Homo sapiens: one gene and its partners. The protein of the gene in region 1 purifies or fractionates together with the protein of each later gene. This does not show direct contact. Each region holds a gene or a part of one and is shown on either strand. Other genes may lie near its edges.

What was found.
Region 2: the proteins of PDIK1L (region 1) and NCBP3 purify together in Homo sapiens (affinity purification with mass spectrometry; one large-scale study listed by BioGRID and IntAct). This does not show direct contact.
Region 3: the proteins of PDIK1L (region 1) and CRNN purify together in Homo sapiens (affinity purification with mass spectrometry; one large-scale study listed by BioGRID and IntAct). This does not show direct contact.
Region 4: the proteins of PDIK1L (region 1) and FKBP5 purify together in Homo sapiens (co-immunoprecipitation; 3 studies listed by BioGRID and IntAct, with this or other methods). This does not show direct contact.

What each region holds. Positions count from the first base shown.
Region 1 is NC_000001.11:26,110,025-26,115,849, reverse strand, and holds the start of PDIK1L (serine/threonine-protein kinase PDIK1L), read right to left. Parts: upstream 4,027-5,825; 5' UTR 3,935-4,026; intron 3,391-3,934; exon of another isoform or gene 3,200-3,390; intron 1,559-3,199; 5' UTR 1,542-1,558; coding exon 1,257-1,541; intron 1-1,256.
Region 2 is NC_000017.11:3,810,628-3,815,811, forward strand, and holds part of NCBP3 (nuclear cap-binding protein subunit 3), read right to left. Parts: intron 3,857-5,184; coding exon 3,695-3,856; intron 2,653-3,694; coding exon 2,417-2,652; 3' UTR 2,028-2,416; coding exon of another isoform or gene 1,919-2,027; 3' UTR 1-1,918. UniProt on the Homo sapiens protein: Associates with NCBP1/CBP80 to form an alternative cap-binding complex (CBC) which plays a key role in mRNA export. NCBP3 serves as adapter protein linking the capped RNAs (m7GpppG-capped RNA) to NCBP1/CBP80.
Region 3 is NC_000001.11:152,410,752-152,416,635, forward strand, and holds the start of CRNN (cornulin), read right to left. Parts: upstream 3,513-5,884; 5' UTR 3,463-3,512; intron 1,496-3,462; 5' UTR 1,483-1,495; coding exon 1,345-1,482; intron 193-1,344; coding exon 1-192. UniProt on the Homo sapiens protein: Promotes cell proliferation, G1/S cell cycle progression and induces expression of the cell cycle regulator CCND1. Regulates proliferation induced by pro-inflammatory cytokine response via activation of NFKB1 and PI3K/AKT signaling pathways.
Region 4 is NC_000006.12:35,678,803-35,683,986, forward strand, and holds part of FKBP5 (peptidyl-prolyl cis-trans isomerase FKBP5), read right to left. Parts: intron 1-5,184. UniProt on the Homo sapiens protein: Immunophilin protein with PPIase and co-chaperone activities. Component of unligated steroid receptors heterocomplexes through interaction with heat-shock protein 90 (HSP90).

The DNA of each region.
Region 1 (5,825 bases):
GTTGTTTTCTTTTCCAAGAATGACTAGTTTCTTTTTGTTTTTTTTTTTTTGACGGAGTCTCGCTCAGTTGCCCAGGCTGGAGTGCAGTGGCGCGATCTCGGCTCACGGCAAGCTCCGCCTCCCCGGTTCACGCCATTCTCCTGCCTCAGCCTCCCCAGTAGCTGGGACTACAGGCGTCCACCACTACGCCCAGCTAATTTTTTTGTATTTTTAGTAGAGACGGGGTTTCACCGTGTTAGCCAGGATGGTCTTGATCTCCTGACCTCGTGATCTGCCCGTCCTGGCCTCCCAAAGTGCTGGGATTACAGGCGTGAGCCACTGTGCCTGGCCCAAGAATGACTAGCTTTAAGAAATTCTGCCCTAGCCTTTAACAAGCTATGTCTTAATATATTTTCTATTCTTTGAGTATAGAGCTACTAGAGATTTTAATTTCTGGCAGAAGCCAACAAAAGAAAAACAGAAAAGCTTTTCCATTTTCCCAGGTTTACAGAAGAGTAATCTGGGAGTTAAGAAAGCATAAGCTTCAGCTGTCATTCTCAGCTCCAGCTCCCAATTGTACCACTTACTATGTATGTGATTTTGGATGAATTCATTATCTATACTATAAGCCTCAGTTTCTTCATTTGTAATGAAGATAATAATAGTCCTTTCCTCACAGGATTGTTTTGAGCAACTGCTTTTAAAGCACTCAGCACAGAGCATCGAACTGCATGCAAATTCAAATGTTAGCTGTTAGCACTGTTAATAACATTCAGGTGTTAAATCATGTACTTCATGAAAATTAACTGGAACTGCGTGGTGAAGAAACCAGATATCCCTCTAAAACAGCAGAGGCTTACATTCAAACCAGTGATTTATAAAAGAGATGCCCAATTACCTAGGGGTGTTGCTACTGGTTGTGGAATTTTTCCTTTTCTTCTGTCCTCAAGTCCAAAATTATTGATTTCAAAGAAATGAAGTTATTAGACTGTAGTCTCAAGCACCTCTCTAGTTCCTATCTTGCCCCATTCCTATGCAGACTGGCAAGTACCATTGCATAACAGGTGGCTTATGTTATTTTTAGGTATGTGCCTCACAGGTTTAAATAAAACCTTGTTTTAAAGCAAACATCTACTCAATTCTTGGCAGACACTTATCTACTTCTAACTACAAACACCTGCATTTAAAGGGAAACGTTCGTCTGACCCTTTCATTCCTCTTCTTGCTGGCCAATGCCATGTTCAAATCATTTCTATTTCCCAATCAACAACACATACCTGTAAATAAAGGGAAGAATTAGAGCCGTGGGACATCTTTTGCACCATCCCATCCTTTTGTAGGATGCATTCCTCCAAGTGAATCACATTTGGATGTTGGCTCTTGATACTGCTTAGTGCCCAGAACTCACGAAGGGCTAGTTCAACATTTTCAGGTGCGTGACATCGAATTTTCTTCACTGCCACCCGTGCAGAGGTCTTTCTGATGACTGCTTCATACACAACACCGTAACTACCTCGGCCTACCTCCCGTATTAGATCGTACTTTGGCTGGCTACTCACCATCTTCAAGGTCGAGGTTTCTGGAAAAATCAACAAAGTGCTCTGTTGAAATTATGTATACCTACTGGCTTGTATTTCTTCTTATGTATGATTTACTTGTCATCTGTCTGACTGTCTGCAGTGCTTGAAGGATATTTGCTATACCTAGGGGAAATCTAATTTTAAGAATAGTAACAATAAAGCTAACAGGTAGTATTTACCATGTATCAGGAACTGTTTTAAGCTCTTTAGAATATTAAATTCAGTTAATCCTCATAATAATCTGATGAGATAGATACTATTATGGTCTTTTTATAGATGAAACTATATAATGGAGAGGTTAAATGAAACGCCTAAGGTCAACAGCTAGTAACTGGTGGACCTGGGATTTGAAACCCGGCCATCTGCCTCAGACGACCACGATCTGAAGCACTACAGTATGCTGTCTCTTATATGAACTGCTTGAAAATGTCACTGTTAAAAATACACCCCCAAAATTCAGCATTCTTATTTACTGATCAGGAAAAAACAAGCAAGCAAGCAAAATCCCAGCTTCTCCTTCAGGCTGACACACACATAATGGTCATAAAACAGCAAAAACAAAACCCCCTCACAGTTAGAAATACAAACACCTGGCTTATGCTTAAGGCCTGAAAGTGAACCAAATCATTTATAGAACTGAAAATGTTTGTTTTCATTATGTAAAAGTAAGTGGCCAAACTCTATCTATTCATATTTTAATTTTGTCTCTTATGTCATCTCCTTATTTCTTACACAATAATGAAAATAAAGTTTGTGGAAAAGAAACGTTTCTTTTTTTTTTTTTTTTTTTTTAGACGGAGTCTCGCTCTCTCGCTCTGTCTCCCAGGCTGGAGTGCAATGACTTGATCTCGGCTCACTGCAAGCTCCGCCTCCCAGGTTCACGCCATTCTCCTGCCTCAGCCTCCCGAGTAGCTGGGACTATAGGCGCCTGCCACCACACCCGGCTATTTTTTTTTGTATTTTTTAGTAGAGACGGGGTTTCACTGTGTTAGCCAGGATGGTCTCGATCACCTGACCTCGTGATCCGCCCGCCTCGGCCTCCCAAAGTGCTGGGATTACGGGCGTGAGCCACCGCGCCCGGCCAGAAACATTTACTTAAAAATAAAGTAAGCTACTTGGATACTTAGAATACAGTTACCTTTTTGTAGTCATTTAACAATAGCTATTTTAAAATTTTTATGTTTCCTTTTTCCTAGTCATAAGACAGCTGGAGTAAACAATATCTATTTAGTTCTAGGTCATTTTTGCCAACAAAGATCCTGCATATCAAGGGGCTCTCTGACAGAGTTCTTGGGAATTCAACTTACTGAACGGTTTAAAGGCGAGGGCAAAGGCCCTGCACAGAAATGCTCATGTGTTGAATGGAGAAAGTCTAAAGTGGGCTTCCTCAGCGCCCAAAGAATTTCTAGATTATAACCAACTTCATGAACGAATTCTCATTTGTAGATTGTGACCACGGGCTAGAAAAGTAACCTGAGATTGTACAATATTTATTCTGTACAGCTGGGGAAGCAAAAGGCTACTGACCCTAGAGCCTGAGAAGTTGGGATCCACTGCTTTAAGTCTACAGGATAGATTTAATAAAAAGAAATGACTTCTGAGATTGTGTTCAGTCCCACTTCCTCTAACTGGACACCCACCCTTCAAATCGCTACTGAATTTCCTAGTGTCTAATTTCCTGCCACAGAATCCTCTGCGCCGGCTGCACAGCAGACGAGCTTTCCTGCTCTACGGGGATCGCCAATCACATCCACTCAAGGTGGTTCGTGTCTCTGAAGCAGTGCCATGTCCTCTCCAGCCTGGTACAGTCCCCATGGGGAAGAGCACCTTCCTGAATAGGGAGGAGAGAGGTGTTTATGAAACCCGTGGGATCCCGGATCCAATGATGCATCCGATGCGAACCTAAGTGACTTTCGACCGAAAGTGGCGGGCCCTCGCTCCCGCTGCTCTAACCAGGCGCTGGGACGCGAGCCGGCCAGGCCAGACACCTGCCGGCGCCCGGGAAGGGCCAGTCGCGGCCAGAGGTGTTGCCCGACGCGGCGGCTCAGGCCGCGCTCATTGGCCAAGTGTCAGGCCCTCCCCCTCCTCGGCCGTGCTCAGATGAAGCCCGGAGGGGAGCCTCCTGAGCCCCTTCGCTCTGAGGAGCCAGCCCTGCAGTTGCCTCAACTCCTCGGGGCTGGGGGCTGAGGGCCGGGGGGAGGTGGCCCCGGTATGAGAGGAGGCCGCGACTGGGGTCGGTGGCCTGAGGAGCGCAGGGCCTTCCCCAGGATGACTCCGCTGACACGTCTGTGACAAGCCTCCCAGGGAGGGAGGCACATGCAGGGCCATCGGCTCTGCAGCAAGACCTCTCCGCCACGCCGAAAGGCCAGATTTACCTCAGGGTAGACGCTGCCGCTTCTCCCTCTCATGGGCTCTGCAGGCCGCCATTATCGGGCAGCTCGCGCCTCCGCTGCCGCCGCCTCCAGTCAGCAGCCGGCGCGCGCCCCCGTGGTGCGCGCGGACACACCCCCTTACGCCGACGGCCCCGCCCCCCTCCGGCTTTCCGTAGCGCGAGCCGGGACGTTCCGCGCCACCGACGAGGCGCGCGGCCGGCGCTCCGCTCGCCTCCTCCCTCTCTCGAGGATTTGCAGAGCCGGGAGTCGTCGGAGGTGTGCGCGCTCCGGAGCGCACCACTGGTGCTGCTCCCCGCAGGGGTGGCCGGGCTCGGGAACCGCGAGGCCACGCCACGCCGGGGCTCGGCCACCCTCCAGCCGCAGCGGGCGCTCAGGGCCCGCGGCCCCGGGGACCGTCTGCAGCGGCAGGTCCGGGCCTGGGGCTGCGCGCGCCCGGCCGCGGCCTCCCCTCCCTCTACCCGCCCCCTTCCGACCTACCGAGCTGCGGGCTGGGGTGCGGGGCTCGCTGGGGTGGAACGCCCGGTGCATCTTCCGCGCGGGTCTCGGGTGCCTGCGGGGCGCGGTGCTCTTTGGCGGGCCTGCGGGGAGGTGCGGCCCGACCAAGGAGGCCTGGCGTCCGCCCCGCCGGGAGGGAGACTGCAGCTTTTCTCCGAGTCACTGAGCCATGTTTGCGGGCGGTGCAGTTGCGGAGACGGCGGCGGCGGCGGCGGCGCGGGGCTGGGTGCGATCATCTGGGAGGATGCCGTCCCCTGCCCCGCCGGCGCGGTGGTATCTCCCTTAAAGAGGCCGGCGCCTCATTGTTCCCCGGCTGCGGCCGCAGGGAGCCAGGGCCACCTCCTCGGCGTGGGGAGTGAGGGCGCGGAGGCGCCTGCACCTGGCTGCGGTGCCCACGGCGCCCCCCCGCGAGGCTCCTGGTGGAGGGTTGGTCTGCAGTCGGCGCAGGGGAGAGGCCTTGGTCCGAGCCAGGATCCACCGCGCTCCTGCCGCTCTCGGGGCTGGACAGTCAATGGGGTCCCCGCCGCTGCTGCAGTCGCTCGGCTGCCACACGCTGTTAGTCAGATCCCGCACGCTGTTGGCCCCACAGCCAGCCCGGGGTCACTTAGGACCGCATTCCTCAGTCATCCAGTTGTTAGATCAGTAAGCATCCGCCAGAAAAGTCCATTCCTTCTTACTCGATTTATTCTGCACCCATTACTTCTCAGCAGGGTGATGATTCCTCCTCCCAGCGCTCGCTCTGTAAGGCACGATGTACAAAAAATCCCTGTCGCTGTGCTCAAAGATCAACTCATTTTATTTTCTGTCCTTTATGCCCCTTCTCCCGAGAGTCTGGCACTGGGTTAGGTCTTTATATAAATGATCTTGCTTAATCCTAACCAAACCCCACAAGAGTAGGTTTTATTATCCTGTTTTTACAGGTGAGGAAACACCTCTGCCTCTTCTCACTGAAGTGTCTGTTTTGGGATGTGTCTACCTTGAATACCCATTCCTGGTGTAACACACCCTCCCCTTAAAAAAAAAAAACAACAACGGTTCTGTAATCTGTTCAGATTTTTGTCCTGAGTGCCATCCAAGTGTCAAGTCTTCAGCTGTTTGCTGGAAACACTGGTGTCAGCCAAGACTTATTTCCCGCCCTCAAAAGTAGAGGGAAAATATAGAAGGCTCTGCGTAGACAGCTAACTACCTGTGTGGGTTATTGATCCCAATCAGGGGAGGGACCTCTCTCTCGATCAAAGTAGCGTTTTCATTTTGTCTCAGTCATTAAATATCATAGGAACCCTTGCTCTTAAGTCAGCTGCAGATGAGATTTGAAATCCACTCTCGCCCCCAGTTTAGGCTCACTGTTAAGTCTGTGAGGGGGGTTTAGATCTTGTGG
Region 2 (5,184 bases), on another chromosome or scaffold:
AGATCTGAGTGACTGAGAGTGGGCAGGAGGGTTAGAGAAACTAATAAGGCCAGTAACTCCGAGAAGTAAAAATCTTTAAAGCTGCCTTTCTGGGTTCTCTCTGTGTGTCTGTGAAAACTGTAAGGTTACTCGAGTGTGTATTTCTCTTGGTTACATCAAAGACCCAGTTTTGACTGCACACCACCTCCTTCCAGAATGGCTTCGCTGATCTGTAGCAGGAGACTGCTGAGTGCTGAAAGGCCGTGGAACAAATGGACCTGAGCTGCTGGTGTAAAACCAAAAGGAAAGTCTGTGAAGGAGCATATTCTAAACCCTGCAGAGGCATGCCAGCTGGGACGCTGACCACAAGACATCTTTGCCCCGTCAGTAGAAGCAGAGACTGTGCTGGGATGGGAATAAGCCCCTGTCTACACCTCATGCGCGCCCTCAGTTGTCTCCCTGGCGCCTCCTCCACCTGCAGTAGAAATTCATGCTGGCGAGCCCACTGCCGTCACAGCTTGGGAAGAGTAAACCGCCACTGAGATGCACCAACAAAGCCAGGAATTCTGGTAACAGCCCACTCAACTGCTAGACGGGAAAACTGAGGCCCAGGTCCATGGAGCAGAGCCAGGGGTTGGCATCCAGGTGTCCGATTCTCAGGCCCCCGCACTCCTCACTCTACCAACTCCCCAAACCCTGACCCTTCCTAAGAACCTGGCTCTCAGCTGTATGCTTCACAGGGAAAGAAAAGCTGAGAAATCTCAGATGTCTTAAGTCTCAACTGGCAGAGAAACCAGAACCATCTCTTTCCTAGAATCCTAATAAGAAGCTGAAATATATCATGGTTATATCCTCTAATCTCTCTAAAGGGAGGGAGAAAAAGCAAGGTTAATCAACAAAATATGGGACAATACAGTTTTTGTTGCAGCTCTCAAATCTTGCAGCCCTTTACTTCCTTTATTAATAACAGTGTTCTGCATTAATTCGTGCCACAGTGTAATCAACTATCAATGTGACCATTAGCTCCGCCACAAGTAAAGATCGACAGGATCCAGGCTGCACTGTGTGCACAACAGCCCAGGCAGGTGAAGAGTCGTGACATCGCAAAAAGGACCACGGTTTATTACCATCTCTAACGCCCATGTTCCAGCAAACCGAAGAAAAACACTGTTTCTTAAAACTGCAGAGGAATACAAAATTAAATACTACAAAACAAAAATCAGACAGGAAGACGAAACAATCTACCTCCTCCTAATGGTAAAATAATCTGAAAGGAGTTTAAAAATAAATGAACTAAAATTTTTATAACTATTATCTTTTCTGCCAATTTTGAAGATGTCTTCAGGTGCCACAACGTGGGGACAGAAAGAATAAATATCAATGTATAACTTCTAGAGTGATAATAAACAACAGGACCCCATCTCAGATGGATGGATTTTTTTTCCTACTGGAGCCAAAAAACAAGCTGAACTCTATGTACAACAGACAGACTATACAACTAGGAGCATTTAAAAATAATAAGACTCCTCTCTCTGCCTTCTTCCAAAGAATAGAATATATATTTAACAGCACAAAAGACGACACCACTTGAGCTTCCCCTTTAGCCAACAGGAAGAATTTCCACATATAAAAATTAAAAATTTAAACTTTCAAATCATTCATGTTTTAAACATAATACAGACTTAAAAATTCTTCAACATTGACCCATAATCCCACCCCAGCACAAAAATCAACCCCAAATCCAGACGTCACAGTTTTTTGTTCCTAAAAATCCCACAGCACTGAACTTGATCTTCACATCAAGCTGACAGCACGTAAGAGGCCCATGCCATGAGCAATCCCCGAGGGAAGAACGGAAGCACAGTCAATGCTGCAGCTCTTATCTACCTGGGCGGCACTGGTGCACCTCTGAGGTCAGGTCCGTGAGATTCGCCCCACACTAGGGTCCCGGAAGGGTGAGCTGGCCGCTTCCCTCCTCTTCCCCCTCGAAGGATGTCCAATAAGCACCTGGGAATTGACTTTTCTTGGGAAAAGGGTGCTGGTAACAGCTGTCAGGGCCAAGGCAATAGTGAGAAGTTCAGTTCTCTGCTCTTTGGATGAACTGTGTAAAACATTTCTTTTAAAAGACACAATGTTAAAAATATTAAGAAAAATGTCTACAAAATCTGGAGGGCTGCCTTTTTCTCAAAGGGTAAAGCCTGTGGGGTGGTGGGAAAGGAATCGAGGGCCCAGAACTACAACTCTGCAGCGAAAGATAGAGATGCCCTTGAAAATGTGTCACATTCTTAAGATGTCTTGCCGAAGTAGCAAGAGCGGAGGGTGACTGTGTGAGCAGGAGCGAGAGGGCGCCAGCTCCTGCGGGGGAGGTTCCTACTGCGCGCCCCACCCTGTGCAAGAATGTCAGGCTTTAGGGCAGCTGCCATAGGCCCCAGGGGCATCAGGACTCTGCCTCTGAACCAGAGCTGCTTTCCCGACTAACTTCAATCTGGAGAGATGGTAAGTTATCTAACCGGCTCTTCTTTTGGCGAGACTGCTCTTTCTCCTTAATCAGAGCCCCCCATGCCCTTTGCAGCTCAGAGTCGTCTTCCTCAGCGCCAGGCGCCCTGTGATCCACTTTCTTCGTATTCTTTTCTTTGGTCTTGGGTGCAGATCCTAGGCGAGTCCATAAATTACCTGTTTGGATGAGATGGCATTTCACTTTCGCAGTCAGCGCTAAGAACCAGGGTAGCACTGAGGGGGCAGCAGCACTGCCAACACCTGCTGTGCAGGAAACGCCAGCAGTCTGTGGAGCCTGCCACCACAGTGCAGCCTTGGGCAGGCAAAATCTCATTTCCCGGGCCGCAGCCCCTGCCCGCAAACGGAAGGGTCTGGACCCAGCACGGGATTCTCACCGTGGGGGGACAGGTCAGGTCCCTCCCTGTCACCAGACACATCAGAATCACCTGAGAGGCCGTTTCCTCCTACTCCTGCCCTTCCCTGCTGAGACACCACCCTGTGTGCCAATCCATTCTGCCAGAAGTAGGCCACTCCCAGATCCCTTCCATTAATTTTTGAAATATATTTTATGAAAATTTAACAATAGAGAAATACGTGTTTAGAATTTTGTAGACGGCCACATTATAAGGCAATTCAAAGTTGTTTTTGTTTTTGTTTTTGAGACAAGGTCTTGCTGTTGCCCAGGCTGAAGTGCAGTGGTGCAGGCGCCCACCACCACGCCCGGCTCATTTTTGTGTTTTTAGTAGAGACAGGGTTTCACCATGTTGGTTAGGCTGGTCTCGAACTCCTGACCTCAAGTGATCCCCCCGTCTCGGCCTCCCAAATTGCTGGGATTACAGGTGTTGAGCCGCTATGCCTGGCCTAAAAGTTTTATTTATAAAGATTATAAAATGTGGCAAACAACTACGATAAAATGCTGTATGAAAAAACTAGGATTTGTATGTGGGCAAAGACCAGAATAGCTCACATGAAACTAAAAAGATTTGTGCCAAACAGAAAGAGCCAGGAGTGTGCTATTTTTTTCTATTTTCTAAGCGTTCCTAACTGTTGGGATGATGCTGATGCTGATGCTGACGATAACTATAATGGAAAAGGAATAATCACTTATATTTGGCGTGGGCTGTTTCTTGCCTTCTGCTAAGAAAGTATTTCTCCAATACACCCACTGTCCTCTGCTCTCACTGAATCCCCATTCCCATCCGTTTTAAGTGTTACCAACCTGATTTCTTCTCCCGAGTATCGGCGTAGAGGCCTTTACTATCCTGCCTGGGAACACCTAGCCTACTATGCACATCAGAAGAGGGCTCTCTCCGAACGACGGGGTTACTACTAAAAGCCTTTTCCGGAGAATGTGGTCTTTTTCCTAACCGCTGGCGTATATCTGAAAAAAGAGAAAAAGTGCACCAGTGACCGTGTGTGTGCTTTATGCTCGGCACCAGCCGCCTGACACCTCTAACGGATCTGGCGCTAACCCCTGCCCCGAGGACACAGGGCCTGACAATCAGGCTGCTAAGTATTCTTCCTTTGTAATCAGTCTGGATTTCCTTAGGAAAATTCGGACATAGGGGCTGTCAGAGGAAAAATCCTCAACTGATTACTCCAGAACTATATTTCTGAAGAAACAACCTTTTTTTTTTTTTCTTTAAGCAGAATCAAGAAGACTAAGTAATTTACAAAAGTTTCAGCGAACAAAAAATCCTGTGAGCTCCTGGAAAGTGGAAGGCACAATCTTTGAACATACAAGTAGTTCCCAATAAACTTATTACATTTAACCAGTAAATATAAAGAGACTGGAAAAGGCAAAGGATCAAATGTGTTTTTCCCTCAATCCCCCCAGAAATCGGCCTGTCCTCTTGAGTTCCCCCTAACCACCACAGCAACAACAGAAACACATTCGTTGGTGAGGCCCTGTGCCGAGGTCTCCTCTCACTTTAGCTTCTCTCAGAGAGCAGCACCCTGGTCTCTGGTCACTGAGACCTGAGCTCCTTTCCTCCAACACTTCCTAGCACTGAGTCTTCCTTCACAAGACTATCCTGTTCTTTATCCATTCTGTCTCCACCGACCTAGTTCAGGCTCTTGTTACTTTTTTAACTCTCTACCCCACCCCACTCCACCCTCAAGTTGTCTTTCTAAAATAGATGTAAGATCAGGTTACTTCTCATGTAAAAAAATCAGGTTTGCCAACAGAGATCCTACCCTCTCCAAGGCCTGGCTCTAATGCTACTTTCTCTAAGAAGTCTTTCACAACTTCCCGAGTAGATCTATGACGGCTCTGCGTCCCCTCCAAAGGCTTCTCACATTCCTAGCACCTAGACCAGGGTCTGGCACATAGCAGGTACGGCTAAAGACCTGCTGAATCAGTGTTTGAACATAGAAATTATCTAGTTCAAACTCTTAACTGTTCAGACAACCACCGAACTTAATTTCTATTATTCTTGTATATAAAGTATACCAGTGTCATACAGAGGAAAATATGGTTGGCCCTCCTCATCCATGGATTCCACATCTATAGATTCAACCAACTGCTGATCGAATACATGTGGAAAAAAAGTAAGACATAAGAGTACAGCAAAAAATAATACAAATTTTACACAACACAGGATAAGAATTTATACCGTATTAGGTATTGTAAATAATCTAGAGATGACTTAAAGTATATGAGAGGATGTGTGTAGGTTATATGCAGATAATATGTCACTTTATATAAGG
Region 3 (5,884 bases), about 130 Mb from region 1:
CGAGGCCCCAGAGTGGAGGCTTCCAGACTCTTGAGAGCCGCAGGCTCCCTCAGCACTCTCGCTCAGTGTCTTGAAACAGGCCTGGGCAACTTTAAACACTAAGACCAGGAATTCCTTGAATTCCACAGTCCCTGTGTGGTCTTCATCCAGCAGACGCAGGACCTCATCCACAGTTGCTGGATCGTGGGGTTTCTGAGGAGAAGATGAGGTGGAGTCAGCATCCCTCCCCTGAGGAGGACATGGGCAGGTCCCTTCCAATCTGCTGCCAGCTTCCCCTGCCTCAGACCCCACACTACACACACATACGGCTAGAGCAGCAGCAAGACTTAATTGCCTTTATTTTTTTTTAGTCCCGTCTCTCTCCCTCAAGTGTAGAGAGCATTTTTTGTTTGGTAGCCTCTATTTGGCACAATTTCTGGGCTACAGGAAAATTAGATAAAGATTTATTGAAGAGTTAATAAATTATTGAATTCACAATGCAACTGTTTGGGCTCTCAAGTTGACTGTCTGGGCTGCCCTTGGCACCTTGCCCCTGGCACTGAGGCCTTAGTCTCTTCAGCAGGCCCAGCACAAAGAGCAGCAGGTTGGGAACACAGCCCCATGGGAATTCTGTGCGCTCCTCATTGAGGCCCAGATGTTTCCCCATGATAAAGAGGGAGGGAAGCAGTGGGCCCCTGCAGCGCTGCCCTGAGCATGTGGATGCAGCATCCTTCTGTGCCCATATGTCCTTGTCCCTAAGGCCATCATCATCCTGGTTGCTTTAGATGCAAACCAAAGACAGGAAAGTGCATCAAGGCCTTGGTTCTGGTTTGCCAGGTGGGGTGGGGTGAGGCTCCAAAGTCTCCCCCTAGCTATTAACAACCTGCTCTTCAAAATTTCATTTCTGATGTGATCAGTCTGCTAATATTTTTGAGTAACTGCTTCGTGCAAGCCCAGAGCTATGCTTCTAATGAATGTCTATGAATGGATGATTACATTTCAGATAGACGTGGGAAATATTTACTGTATCAAATTTAAGAGGCGGCAGAAAGCAGCAATTATTTTCATTTTGAAATATTCCAAGGCTCTGCTCCTGTCTGAGTTGTCCTTTTAGAGCCCTTTTACCTTGTCTTTAAGTTAGAATTAATTAAAACCAAGGTTTTAATCTAAAGAGCCAGGACTTGCCAACTCCCATGACCATCTCTGGTTCTTTCACCTTTTTTTCTGCCTGCACAGCTGCCATCTGTCCCGGCAGGCCTGGGTTTAGCTGCTGCCTCCTCAAATTCCCCAGGCAAGGCCTCTGCAGGCAAACCAGGTTTCACTCTCCTGCTATGTCCCCTCTCCACCCGGCTCAGCACACCGTACCACAATCACATCGGCAAACTCTTGCTCCAAGAGTCTTTTCAGCTCCCCTCGGGTGAGCGCTGTGCAGTTGCCCTCCGTCCTTGCATAGCGCCTGAAGGCCTCGATGATCCCATTAATGTTTTGCAGTAACTGAGGCATCTTTGAAGTCAACCTGGAAAAGATGAAAAGTTCCCTTGGAGGCTCCATAATCAACCTCAGCTATTTCCTTTATAGCACGTCTGCTGCTAGGTCTTTCCTTGCACGTTCAGCTCTGTTTTTAGTTTTCCTTTGTCCTTTCCTACATAATGCATCTTATGTATGGGAAGGAGGAGCACACAGGATGGAGGCAGGTTCCTGAGTCAGGATTAAATGCTGGCCCCACCACTTAAGTATGGTGTGAGCTGGGACAAGTTGCTTTGCCTCTCCATGCCTCAGTTTACTACTCATTGTAATTGAAGGTGATATTAGTACTCTGTGGGATTATTGTGAAGATTTAAAGACATAATTCATAAAAAGCACTTGGCAGATGCCTGGCTTATATTAAGTGCTCCTTATTAAATATAATTATTATGCTATTATATACATATACACACATATAATTTTTGTACACCTATATAATCACTTTCCTGTACATCATCTCTTCTAATCCTTATTATTTCCACTTTTTTTTATAGGTGAGGAAACAGGCTCAGAGAAGTTAGGCCACACAATTTTTAAGGAGCCAAGAAATCCTAGGATCCATTTTTCCTTAACCCAAATGCAATGGGCTTTCTAGAATGTACCCTGTGGACAGGATTTATTTATTTATCACAAGGGTGTTAGGGTCCCATCGGGAACACCAAAAGGAAGTAAATACATCTGTGAGTCAACCCCTGTCTTGGATGGGAGCCAAGCAGAAATTCCAGGGACACAGCCCTCCCTTCTTGTTTTTTTTGGGAAAGTGGGAAGAAACTGGGCTACCACCTGCTGGGAATGCTCAGGAGGGGGGAACCTTCTTTGGGTGGGAGGCCTTCCAGTTCTGAGGGTCCAAGTTTCTCTGCATGTCGCCTCTGTCCACAGCCCTGAGACTTATCAGAGAAGTCAGCTTGCCCAACAGGCACGTGGCTCCATCAGGCCCAGATTTCTGGTGACCTATGAGTTGGTTCCTAATCAAAGGGAAAGCTTTTCTTTTTCATTAGCCAGAAATCTAGAGGTAGGTTGAGGTGAGGCCTGGGTTTGGTTGCATGAGCAAAAGGAAAAGAGACTTGAAGATTCATTAAGCAGAAGCCTTGGAGAGACCCAAAGGAGGAGATGGTATCAAAGATGACAAGTCTCAAATGCAAGGGGAGATGGAGCCTGTAGCAGCTGGAAAGCCAGAGAGAGGATGGGACGAGGCAGATATAGGTAGGAGAAGAAAGAGAAAAAAGGAAGGAAGGAGACTTGAGTTCTAGAAAAAGCAGATTAGTGTGGCCATGAGGACTCAGTAAGTCATAGCAAAAGGTGGGCTGTTCAGGAGAAACCCTTTCTAGGACCTGGTAACCAACAATTTCAGGCAAACTTTTCATCAAGGTAAAAAACTGGGGATGTTTTCCTCAACATAGATGAAAAATATCTTTCTTTTTTTTTAAAACCATGTAGCAGACTTTAACCACTGACCTTTAGATAATAAAATAATAAGATGACCTTTTAGTTACATTTTAGATTCCTTAGAAAAATCTACACATATTTTGCCTAAATATCACCCTGGTGTAGGAGAGGGGAATCATGTAAACCCCTTCATCCATGACACAGTTTGATCTTATTGTCTAGGTTGGCATAAGTAAACTGATTCTGATCCCATAGACTCTCAGCACTGCAAAGAAGCTTCCAGAGCCTTAGAAAAAAGAAACCTTTGCTGATCCAGGAAGGCACATGGGTGGCCCCATAGCCGCTGCCCACACAGTTTCCCAGTGAGAGGAGCTGCTCCCAGGCCAGCCTCAGGGAGGAGGAGAAAGCCTGATTGCTTCAGGAGAGCATGTTTCCCAACGGTAGCGTTGGTTTGCCCAGTGCTCACAGCTAGCTCTGAAGGATGCATAGTCCATACCTGACTGCCCCAGTTTTATGAGCTCAGATCACCAAGACACTGAGAATGAGAAAGAGGTTTCTTATGAGGGGACTTACCTAATGCCCAGGTGGGATGAAACAAGTGGCTGTTAAGTGGTGTGAGGAGTACCAGGTCAGTGTGATGAGAACCTTTTATAGGGGTTTTAACCAAGGCTCTTGTTTTAGACAGGATATCCTGCCCTATGGGAAGGCTTGATTCATCCAAGATCCAGCCCAGCCCAGCCACACCTCCTCTTGTCTCTGTTTTACCTGCTGATGTGTGACTGCCTTGGTCTAATTAACAGGCCCCTCCTACCACATTTGGTACCTTCTGTAGCTGAGTCCTCTTGACAGGGAAGCTTCTTTCCATTGTGATGGGCTCAGCAGTGCTTGGTACAGGCTGGGGTCCTGGTGAACATTCTTTGTCTCTATGAGCCTACAAAGTTATGGGACTCTTTCCTTTTTTTTTTTTTTTTTTTTTTGAGATGGAGTCCTGCTCTGTCGCCCAGGCTGGAGTGCAGTGGTGCGATCTTGGCTCACTGCAACCTCCGCCTCCTGGGTTCAAGCAATTCCCTGCCTCAGACTCCTGAGTAGCTGGGATTACAGGTGCCTGCCACCATGCCCAGTTAATTTTTGTATTTTTAGTAGAGACAGGGTTTCACCATGTTGAACAGGCTGATCTTGAACTCCTGACCTCATGATTCACCTGCCTCTGCCTCCCAAAGTGCTGGGATTATAGGTGTGAGCCACCGTGCCTGGCCACTGTTTCCTTTTTTAATATAAATGTTCAAGAATATATCTATTGAGGTTAACTTTTACAAAGTAGCCACTCTGAGAGGGCACACATGTTTTTGTGGTGATGTTACTTAGAACTGTTATTACTTAGAACATTTTTTGAATTCTTGTTTTGTAAGTGCCTTTCACACCTAGTGTATGAGACACAAGAAAGCCAGTTTCATCTCTTTAAAGTTGGTCTCATTTTTAATTAAAACAAAAAAAGTTAATACCTTCCCCACCCCATGCTATGGGTAGGTAGCATTTTGTAGCTGATGAGAAAAAAGGCTTACCATGATCATGTGGTAACTCCTCATTGCAAGGACAGGAAACTCAACTGGTGGCTAATCAGCAAATATTTATGGAAAGCTTGCTCCATTTCAGGCAGAGGGCTAAGGCCCTAGGAATACAGTGTTGAATACGATGGCAGCAGTTTCAACTCTCATGAAGTCTATAGCCTGGCCATCCCAGGGGTAAGTCCCCAAGAGGTTAATGATAATGGTATTGCCATTTCATTTCATTTGATTTTATTCCATTTTCATTACCATCTCATCTTATTTGATCTCCCTAGCAATCCTCTGAGGTGGTATGGCTAAGCCCAATTCATAAATGAGAACACTGAGAAATCCTCAGAGAAGTAGCCACTCTGTGAAGCGGAGACGGTGCTGGACTAGAGCCCCTCAGACTCCAGGCCTGTGTTCTCTCTGTTGCACCATGCTGCCATTTATTCTTCTCTCATTGAGTTTTGGCACCTTATGAACATCACACTTATCCTCAATGCATGAAGAACCATTCCTGAGGAGGAAGTTTTCTGAGCTCAGAAGCCAAGTCCCAAAGAGTGCTCTTGAGTGGCACTTTGCAGATAATATATACTGTGTAGCTTCCTGAGTGACTCTGGAAGGGAAAGCCATCTTTACCATCCTCACTTATAGATCAGCATGCAACAGACAGGAAAGGGAACAACAGGATAGGAAGGCATGGTAAGGGCCTTGGTTGAAGAGACTGGTGTATTGAGGGCAGCCCTGTAGCAACAGCACAGCCTCCAGCACTTCCCCTCAGGGCACAGAGCACTGGGGAGTTCCAGACTGCAGGAGGGCAGGATGCAGGCTTTGTGTTTGGAGAGATCTGTCTACATGGGGACAGGTTGGCTCCAGTCCTGGGGTGAAGGTGGGGTAGGCATACCAGCCAGGGAAAAGCAGAGTAGGGGCTTCAACCTTTGGGAGCAAGAGGGGGCTGAGGTTGCTTCTGCCTGATCAGAGTTAGAAGAAGGCCAGTATGAGAGGGTGAAGTTGGAGAACAAGAGGGAGAGCCGATTAGACCTTCTTCTGTGGTGGTGTTTGAAGCTTTTTCTGATGGGGCTTAGAACTTCCAGAAAGGTTTGGGAACTGAGGGTAAGTTAGGGAAGTAACAAGCCAGAGGCTGTATCTAGAAGATGAATATTTGGTAGGTATTATTAACCCAATTTATAGATGAAGAAACCAAGGCACAGAGAGTAAGTAAGTAAACTTAAGTAAACTACCTAAGGTCACATAGCTAGGAAGTTAGACCTGAATTTGAACTTAGGTCTGCCTGCCTCCAAAGCCTAATAGGTCTTTATGTGTGCCTGGGGCAGGACTGAGCTGTGAGGAGCTGGGGCACCATAGAAGTAGAGGTTAAAGAACTGTATGTGTGTGCTGGGCCAGTGGAGGTGGGTTGAAGTGTGCAGGTGGGGCTGGGGGAGATGAGT
Region 4 (5,184 bases), on another chromosome or scaffold:
TGGACACAGTGGCTCATGCCTGTAATCCTAACACTCTGGGAGGCCAAGGCAAGAAGACAGCTTGAGCCCAGGATTTTAAGACCAGCTTGAGCAACATAGTGAGACTGTGGCTCTACAAAAAAACTTAAAAATTAGCTGGTCATGGTGATGCATACCTGTAATCCCAGCTACTGTGGAGGCTGAGGTGGGAGGACTGTTTGTACTTAGGAGGTCAAGGCTGCAGCATGCTGTGATTTCACCACTGCATTTCAACCTGAGCAACAAGTAGGACCCTGTCTCAAAAAAATATATGAAATACAAATAACCAAAATGTCAGTAATTAATGAATCTGGGGAATGGGTACATGGAGGTTCATTAAAGAATCTGGAGAGGAGGTATATGGAACTTCATTAGACAATTCTCTACGATTCTGTGTATGTATGCAACTTTCATAATAAAAAGTCTAAAAAGGTCTACTTACAGGTATACTTTTTAAATCCTATCTTCAGTTAAGGCTGACCATTCTAAACAAAATTCTGGCAGATACTTTTCAAAGAATGTTTTCTTCATTCTCGACTGATCAATTAAACACCATAGTGAAATGGACCATAAAAGGGGAAAAGGCCTATTCTGTCATTTCAGAGAAATATGAACATGTTTATTACATGGAAGAAGTTAGTCCTTTTATCCATGTTGATTGATATCAGACATCTGTCATTCTTCAAAGAATTATGTTTTTGTTGAAAAATATATAAGTTAAATGAGTAAAGAAAACATGGCATACACACACAACGGAATACTACTCAGCCATAAAAAAGGAATGAAATAATGTCTTTTACAACAACTTTGATAAAGCTGGATACATTATTCTAAGTGAACTAACTCAGGAATGGAAAACCAAATACTGCATGTTCTCACCTATAAGTGGGAGATAAACTATGAGTACACAAAGGCATACAGAGTGATATAATGGATTCTAGAGACTCAGAAGAGGGCAGGGGAAAGGAATAAAAAACTACATATTGGGTAAAATGTGTATTACTCAGGTAACAGATGCACTAAAATCTCAGAATTCACCATGATATAATTCATCCATGTAACCAAAAACCACTTGTACTCCAAAGCTATTGAAATAAAAATATATTAAATTTAAAAACTTATAAATAAAAATATATAGGTCATATAACTTTATTATTTTCATGAGTAAAGGCAAAATAAATGTTTATGTTGAATATCAATGATTAATTTGTTGAAGCATCTGGTTAGCCCTCCAGTTACTTCAAACATCTTCTACTCGACTATATGACCAAATAAAACAACTTTCTGATGTAGATGGAAAAAAAAAAAAGATTTAAAAAAATGAACCAGGCCAGGCACAGTGGCTTATACCTGCAGTCCTAACACTTTGGGAGGCCAAGGTGGGAGGATCACTTGAGGCCAGGAGTTCAAGACCAGCCTGAGCAACACAGCAAGACTCTGTCTCTACAATTTTTCTTTAATTAGCCAGACATGGTGGTGCACGCCTATAGTCCCAGCCACTCAGGAAACTGAGGCAGGAGAATCATTTGAGCCCAGGAGTTCCAGGCTGCAGTGAGCTATGATCGCACTACTGCACTCCAGACTGGGCAACAGAATTAGACCCTGTTTCAAAAGAAAAAACAAAAAGAACCAATATCCATTAATTATGCCTAATACTAAATTGTAATGAACACATACTAAAAATTACATAAAATAAGTAGTAGAATTGGAAAGTTGAATTTTTTTAGCCATTATTGTTTAAGCTATGATTTAAATTGATTTAATCTAAATCAAATCACACTATTGAGGCTGTGGAAACATTAAATCTAGTAGACAGTGACAGATTTACCACTTACCAATGATCAAGAATAGTTTAGTTTACAAACACCAATGTCTTTCCTGCCTATGAAAAATAGCACCACCCAAAAACAACAACCAGATTTGTATGCCTCCTCTTCTTTGGCTAAGTTCTAGGATAGTAAAAACTGTTCATGTCTTTGCAACAGCTAGCACATTGTAGGTATACAACTCTTTTAACAGAAACAGTCACAACTTCCAATTCCCAGAAAGCTATTGCTAGGTTTCAGTCACATTCCCTAGGTGACATGTGTAGGATAACAAAATAAAGCAGGTTTGCCTTGTAGGCAGTTCTACCTTGAATCGTTTTGAGGATCCTGTTTCTTCTAACAGAAACATGTCATGAGTCTTTAGTGAAAAGCAGTATAAATACATATACATGAAGACAAAAGACAGCCAACGATTCTTTTTCTCATCATTATTAAACCACTGGTTAATTCCTAACTGAGGTATTTCATGTTTTTTAGATAACAAGATCATCCTCATTTTCAACACTTTTTTTAGCTTTCTTTCCTTTATTAAAGTAAAATTTACATACTATAAAATCTTAAGTTTGAATCAATATGTTTGAGTAAATGTATATAACAATTGGCAAAACTGGATAAAGGTATACGGAAGCTCTTTGTACTAGTCTTGCAACTTTTCTGTAAGTTAAAAATTACATGAAAACGAAGTTACCCAAAAAGTATATAACTGAATTACCATCACCCAAGTCAAGCTACAGAATATTTCCATCATGCCAGAAAGTTTCCTTGTGCTCCTTTCCAGTCAACCACAACCCCTACCCAGAGGCAACCACTGTCCTGATTTCTATCACCATACCTTAGTTTTGCCTGTTCTTGTATTTTTCATAAATGGCATCATAAACACTTATACATACTCATCTGTGCCTGGCTTCTCTTGCTATGAACAGTATTTCTGAGATTCATCTATGTTGCTATGTGAATCAGTAGTTTATTCCTACTGTGAAAAAAGCTGCTATGACCCAGTCTTTTTGTGGGCATATATACTTATTCCTCTTGGTACAATAAGATTTCACAGAAAAAAAGTTTCGCATATAAATATGCCTGGGAAATAAGGCAGTATAGATAGATACTGCTATACACACATAAAACATATAGCAACCATATATACCATTATATATAATGTAAAAAAGATATTTGATATTTATACATATGTGTAATATATGTGTAATACACACACATACATAAGCTTGAATAATTCTGATCACGCCACTGCACTCCAGTCTGGGCGATAGAGTGAGACTGTCTCAAAAAAAAGAATTTATAAAGTTCATAGTGAAAGTAAATCTAAGATGGGAAAGATGAGCATCTCAATTTTTCTAAGTTTATGTCTTAACCTAACAATAACTCAAAAGAGAAACAAGTATCTCTCCATGTAAATTACCCTGTTAGGTTTCAATGAAACACCTTTTCTCTTGTAACAAACATCTCCTCCAAGCTAGAATTTCAAAACAGTGTTACCATCCACTAGGTAATAATTTTTATGCTAGCAACAAAACCCAAAATATGTGTTCAGATTACAAGACTGTTTTTATTGTCTTGCTTTTTTAAAAAAGTTAAACATGGAAAAACTTAATTAATTAATATCTAACATGGGTAAAGAACATTCCATGCTCATTCAGAATATATTCTGATGCAGACTCAATCTCTAAGATGTTTTCTCCATTCCAAAAAGTAACCTATCGCAGCATTATGTCCATGACTGGGACATCTTGACTTTCAAATTCACTGTGCAATTTTCAGCTAACAATGGAGGAGGTTCTTTAGTTTCCAGAGATAGGAACACTGAGAACAAGTACAAATCTAACTTTTGAAAAGATCAATCTGAAATTTGCAACCCTGCTTTTGATAATGAAATGACCATTTTCTGGGGACTCCTCATTTATAACATCTTTAAATTGCCAAGTTTAAAACAGAATGCTACAAATGATTCTAGAAATTTACCACTGCCCACTTAGGATTTGCAACTACAAAAGGGAAAAAACAACCCTCTTCCAGTCTGATTTTTCTTCATCTCTTATTCTTCTTTCCAAAAAACGAACAATTTCAAAAGGATACAATTCAAATGTACTACATTTTTAAGCCAGGCATGGTGGCTTGGGCCTGGGATCCCAGCACTTTGGGAGGCTGAGACAAGAGGATTGCTTGAGCCCAGGAGTTTGTGTCGAGGCTGCAGTTAGCCACCACACTTCAGCCTCGGTGACAGAGCAAGAAACAATCTCTTTTAAAAAAAAAAAAAAAGAAAAAAAAGTATATATATATATATCCCATTTCTTTTTTAAAAAAAGGTTAAAAACATACGTCAATCTCTTTAAAATGTATGTATGTGTCTGTGTGTATATATATGTCTCTTCCAATCTTTTTCTTAAAAAAAGTATAGAAATATATATCCCAAGCTCTTTCTTTAAAAAAAAAAGTGTGTGTGTATATATATACGTATATGTGTGTGTGTGTGTGTGTGTGTGTGTGTGTGTGTGTGTGTGTGTGTGTGTGTGTGTATTTGAGACTGGGTCTTGCTCTGTCCCCCAGGCTGGAGTATGGTGGCTCACTGCAGCACTGAACTCCTGGGCTCAAGTGATTCTCTTGCTTCACCCTTCCAAAGTGCTGGGATCACAGATACAAGCTACCACACCTGGAGAACTTTATATTTTTTGTAGAAATGGGGTCTTACTATGTTGCCCAGGCTGGTCTCTAACTCCTGGGCTCAAGCAACCCTCCTGCCTTGGCTTCCCAAAGTGTTGAGGTGTTGACATTACAGGTGTGAGACATCATGCCTGGTATATATATATACTTTTTTTTTTATTGAGATGGAGTTTCACTGTGTTGCCCAGGCTGGAGTGTAGTGGTGCAATCTCAGCTCATTCCAACCTCCACCTCCCAGGTTCAAGTAATTTGCTTGCCTCAGCCTCTTGAGTAGTTGGGACTAAGGGCATGCACTGCCATGACTGGCTAATTTTTTTTTTTTTTTTTTTTTTTTTTAGTAGAGATGGGGTTTTGCCATGTTGGCCAGGCTGGTCTCCAACGCCTGACCTCCTGGCCTGGCCTATATTTTTAATCTTATAAAACATTATCAGAATTTGGACATTCCTAGGCTGGGCATGGTGGCTCACACCTGTAATCCCAGCACTTTGGGAGGTCGAGGCAGGCGGATCACCTAAGATCAGGAGTTTAAGACCAGCCTGGCCCTGGCCAACATGGCAAAACCTCGTCTCTACCAAAAATACAAAAATTAGCTGGGCGTGGTGGTGTGTACCTGTAATCCCAGCTACTCAGGAGGCTGAGGCAGGAAGAATCGCTTGAACCAATG